Regions from separate parts of the Homo sapiens genome. Here region 1 is linked to region 2. A link means that fine-mapping ties the variant in region 2 to the expression of a gene that starts in the linked region. Tissue or cell type: whole blood. Region 2 holds a variant in brackets; the other region holds the start of a gene. All regions are shown on one strand. Distances are between the middles of the regions.

The links. PIP is the estimated chance that this variant, and not a neighbour inherited with it, causes the effect. A credible set is the group of variants that fine-mapping cannot tell apart.
Region 1: it holds the start of PIP4K2C, and the variant in region 2 is the best candidate, but not a certain one, in a credible set for the expression of PIP4K2C in whole blood (INTERVAL, PIP 0.70).

The regions. Positions count from the first base shown.
Region 1 is chr12:57,589,633-57,592,248 of GRCh38, reverse strand. It overlaps PIP4K2C (phosphatidylinositol-5-phosphate 4-kinase type 2 gamma), which reads right to left and starts at 1,057. Exons shown (of 10, transcript NM_024779.5): 1 at 786-1,057. The coding sequence starts at 959. RefSeq lists a silencer at 960-1,219 and enhancers at 818-1,319, 1,400-1,449.
Region 2 is chr12:57,551,519-57,554,274 of GRCh38, reverse strand. The region is part of intron 1 of KIF5A (kinesin family member 5A); the gene reads right to left. Among named protein-coding and RNA genes, the nearest start is that of KIF5A, 2.9 kb to the right of the region's middle. The variant C/G (reference allele first, on the strand shown) is at 1,548.

The DNA.
Region 1 (2,616 bases), 38 kb before region 2:
CCTTGGCCTCCTCCTGACTCCCAGAGCAGTTTCCTGCTTCAAAAGTTCACCACCATAGTGACCTCAGGAACAGAGCCCCTCAGCCTTCTCTTTGGTCAACAATCGCCACCACCTACACCAAACACGATCGCTCTAGCCAGCGATAAGGATGCAGTTAAGACCAAAGGCATATATACATAAGTCCTGAGAGTGTGCAACTTCTAGCTCAGGGTGGGGTAGCTTCTCTAAAATGCTGTACCTCTGGAAGGGAAAGGAAGGGACAAGCAGGATTAGAAAGCCCAGGAAACCTGGAGCTTCCCCGAGACAAAACCAAGATTCAAAAGCCAAGGACCGGGGCTGGGAAGCAAGGTGGAAAGCAAAGTGAAAGAACCTTTTCATCCATCTACTCCCCTCGGCCCCTCACCCTCCACCTACACTCTCACCAACAACCACCCGAGAAAAAGCCACTCCCCCTAATGTCCTCCCCGCTTGCGCCCGGTCCTGGCCAGTCCGCGTAGCCTGAGGCTGAAGCTAGACATGGCAGGAAGGAGTCAAAGCACAGGGAGCTGGATTTCACGGGGGGAAGGTGGAACTAGAGTGGAGCAGTAAAGAACTGTTGGGGAGAAAAAAGTCCACAGTCAGAAAACCTGCTGGGGGAACACCTGGGGTTGGTGGGCAGGGACCAAGACAACCCGGGGGAGGGGAGTGGCACTGCGTGGGGCTCCGGAGGCTGGAGCCTGGAAACAGGGACGCCTCGGAGCCGAGGGGTTTGGACAGGGCTGCGGGGGTCTAGGGCTGGTTCTCACCGAGTGGGCTACGCCCCACAGGAACACACCCACCAGCGGGTCGGCCGCCCGGAACACCTTCACCTTCTGCTGCACGAAATGCTTCTTCTTGGTCTTGGAGGCGAAGCCGAAACCTGGGCCGGGGCCTGCTGTCGCCGCCGATACCGTGGCTGGTGGGACCGAGGAGGACGCCATAGTCTCCCGCGCAACCGACCAAGTGGAAGCCGGAGCCGGCAGCTATCCAGGCGCCCGACCCCGGAAGCGGCGCTCACCTGCGCTGCTGTCACGTGACCGGAGGCCGGACAGCGGACGCGCGAACAGGGCGAGGCAGGACGGGGCGGGGCGACGCTGGCCCCGCCCCCCGGCGCCTGCCTGCCTGCCCCAATGTCCGCTCAGTGTGTGGGCTCACCTGGCGTGCGGGATCCCTGTAAGCTGACGAAGCAAGCGGCCCGCGAGGCCCCTCGAACTGTCAACTAGGAGACCGTGGTGCGGCCTGGGCTGGCCTGATTGACTCCCAAGGTCTAGGGCTTCTTTGCTGCAAAGTGGCCGCCTTCCGGCTTTGCCCAGTTTCTAATGAGTAACCTCGGACCTGATGCTAATGCGAAAGCATTCTTACCGAATGGGGGTTGGGAAGGGGAGGGTTTTGGAAACCCAAAATTCTTACCAGTGGTCTCAAGCGTCTTGAAATTCATTCATTCATTTAACAAGTATTTATTGTGCACTTAGTTGTACTAGGTCCTGTTCTAGGGGCTGATTTTCCTTTTATTGAAGCAGGGTATAGGACAGTGACTGCCCCGAAGTAGTTGGGAGTCTAATGGCACTGGCTGGCCAATGGAGATCAAGTTTGCAGTATGCAAAGTATGAGCTATCCTAGAACTGTGTATGAAGCAAAGACAATGATACAAAGAAAGGAAGTGTAGCTGGTCAGGGAAGGCTTCAAAGAGGATAGAGACTTTACTGAGTTTGGAAGGGTGGGTGGAGTTCAGGAATAGAGGTTAAAAGGCTGTCTAGACAAAGAGAACAGCATACAAAGACATGGAGACAAGAAAGAACGAAGCCGGGCGCGGTGACTCACGCCTGTAATCCCAGCACTTTGGGAGGCCGAGGCGGGAGGATCACCTGAGGTTGGGAGTTCAAGACCAGCCTGGCCAACATGGTGAAACCTCGTCTCTACAAAAATACAAAAATTAGCCGGGCATTAGCCGGGCGTGGTGGCGTGAGCCTGTAATCCCAGCTACTCAGGAGGCTGAGGCAGGAGAATCACTTGAACCCAGGAGGCGGAGGTAGCAGTGAGCCGAGATCACGCCAAGCAGAGATCACGCCAAGCAGAGATCACGCCACTGCACTCCAGCCTGGGTGACAGAGTGAGACTCCATCTCAAAAAAAAAAAAAAAAAAGCCGGGCATGTTGGCAGGTGCCTGTAGTCCCAGCTACTTGAGAGGCTGAGGCAGGAGAATCGCTTGAACCCAGGAGGCAGAGGTTGCAGTGAGCCCAGATCATGCCATTGCACTCCAGCCTGGGCGACAGAGCAAGACTCTGTCTCAAAAAAAAAAAAAAAAAAAAAAAGCCAGATGCGGTAGCTCACGCCTATAATCCCAGCACTTTGCGGGGCCGAGTCGGGAGGATCACCTGAGGTCAGGAGTTGTGGGCAAAGGATTACCCAGGTGCCAAGGCAAGAGACTGAAGGCACAAACTGTTGCAGTATAATAAAGAAAATAGTTAGAATAAAGAGTAGTTACAATACAAATTAGATATAGAGATGATCATGGACAATTATCAATCATCAGTATAAACATTATAAATCATTAGCTTTTAATATTACTCTTTGTGGCATTACTAATATAACCTAGGA
Region 2 (2,756 bases):
AAACAGGCTCAAAGAGGTCAGGTAGCTTCCCCACAGTCACATGGCTGAGAAATGGTAGAGCACAGTTTCAAATTCAAGCAATCTGATTCCAGACCCACACTGCAAAGTGATCCAAGAACTGAAATGCCAACACTGTGTCAGAGCCTTATCAAGGCTTTTTCTTCCCCTACTCCATATCCCCCCTCCTCACATTTGGGCATTTTTCCAAGTATTTCCAGACAGAACTAAAGCCTTTCATCACTCCCTTTTTCCAACCTCAATCCCATTTTCAGAAGTATGTAATTCTGCCACCCACCCTCTCTACCTCCAGGTAATCGAAGACTCTGTGAGTTGTTAATGAGAAATAGTCACAGAGTCCCTCCTCCTCTTAGAAATGTCGCCGAAATCCAATCTCTCTCCCACCCCCAGCAGTCTAAGTGCTCCTTATAGCCTTCTCTGAAGGGCCTCTCTTCAGAGTCCCACAGTCCAGGGTTCTTTGTTCTCTTTTAATTTAATCACACTCCGAGCCTCCCTGGTGTCTCCTCTTCCATTTGTGTATCCCAGCACCTTTCTGTACTTTTCTATCATGTGTGCTGACTGAAGCTAATTGGGGCTGGGGGTTTAAGATCAGGGGTCCAAAGATGACCAACCTGTTCAACCCTCAGTAAAGCACTTGGTATAAGCTGAACTTCAAGTGCCAGGCCTGATTTCCATAGTGACACCCGTGGGGATTGTTGCCATGGTAATGCTGGAGAGACACTGGCCACAATGAACGTTACTTCTCGTCTCCATTTTTCTTTATGAGACTCCCCCAAAGCAAAGGACAGCCCTGCTCCCCACTTCAGATATCAAATCCCAGGCCACCCCAAACAATACTGATTCTGCTCCAATAACCCTGCAGGTCCCAACCTAGCTTTGCCAAGTGAGGTACACAATGGTCCTAGTTTCTTGCATTAAGAACCCACTTAACCATTGGGAGACCTGAGGGAGGTAGCTGTGTACACTTGAATGAAGGGGAAAGAGAAAGAGTGTGTGTGTGTATGTATGTGTTTCTTCACTGTCATCCCTCCCACATCTGGTACAGATGCAGCAGTCCAGACAGCAGGCACTGGGACACTGCTGAGAAAGACCAAGGCAGAGGAAGACAGACACTTAAATGGGTCTGGCGAAAAAGTCACACTGGATTCTGAGTGTGCAAAAGCAAAACAAGATGGGCACCACACACAGACGGTGACCCAGACACCCTTCTGCTATGACTCAGGCCATTAACTTTGGCTAAGCCCCATCCCCCAGGTTCCTGGAAGAAGTCAGAGGAGTAGGGGAGAAAAAAGGCACACAGAGCTGTCTCTCCAGCTTATTCTCCTACCCTCTAACAAGCAGAACAAAGCCCACGAACAGAAGGGACTCTGAAGCTCAGCGCTGGCCGCAGTGCTGCAGAGGCGAAGGGGAGAGCAGTCACAGGAAGGAGTAGGGGCTGCATTGGGAAAGATTATCTCTCCCACCTTCACTCTTCCCGCACCTTCCTAGACATCCTGAAGCAGCCTCCCCCATTAATTCCTAAGCCAGCT[C/G]CCGACCTGGTGGGCTCCAAAAAGAGCTAGAGGGGAAAAGAGAAAAAGGAGTAGGAATTTCCTTCCCTTGTTGGGACCCTCAAGGGTCTCCTAAAAATCATGTCTCCTGTAGCCCTCATTCCCTAAATGATGAATGAATATTAAGTCTGAAAAAGCAAACTCCAAGGATGTTGCCTAAGACAAAATGGCCCCCCCGTAAGCATTTATCTTCAAGTGAGAGATTGACAGGGAGGGCTAGGGTGAGGGAAGATACGAGCAAGACAAAGGTACAGCCCTACAGATATCAGGCAAAACAGACAAGGAAGATCCAGCTGTGGAGCTGAGATGGAATCTGAATTGGCAGGGGGCCTGGGGCTTCTATTCATCTTTCCTCCTTGCCCACCTCCCACTGTGTGTCTCTCCTGTTTAGCTGGGCTAACAACAGATCGACACCACACCCCTCTTACCAACATCACCCCCTGCCCCATCCCACTATACTAGGATGGCCCAGAGAGCCTAAAGGAGTTGGTTCAGTCTTACTGGAAAAACCTCCCAGAGCAAGGAAATTGGGCCTAAAAGTTTTGCCCCCATCATCACCCTCCTCCTGTTTCTCAGCCTTTATGTCTCAGGGGGATCTGAAGCTCCAACTCTCACAACTAATGCTGGCTATCCAGGACACTCTGAGAGGGGTCCTCCAGAGTTGATCCAGGAGTTGTTTTGTGGTTGTTTTGTTTTGTTTTGTTTTGTTTTTAGCCCAGCCAGACTGAACAGACTGCAGGGCCAGCGAGGTCCCTGAAGCAAAAAGAAACAGAGGCCCTCTCCATGTGGCAAATACATACACAGAGAGAGAGAGAGAGAGAGAGAGAGAGAGAGAGACCAAAAGCATCCATTTGAGTTAACAGTGTGGGTAAGGGTGCAAGGTGGTGACAGACTGGGGCCCTTGGGGACTGGTAAGCAGGTCTCCCCCGAAGCATGTTTATTCAAAGTCCCATTCTCACTGACTCAGAAGGCCCAGGCTTCCTCCCCTTCTTTCCTTCATTCCTTTAACAAGCCTGTGTCCAGGTGCTCTGTGCCAAGCACTGTGGATAAAGATACATAAGAAGCACCTCTGACCTTGACTGCCCTCGTACATGCCCCTCCCTCCTCAAGCTAGTTTTTGTTTCCTGGCCCAGCACCCCTCAAGCCCTACAGGACTCGACCCCAGATCTTTTCTCCCCACACACAGCCTGA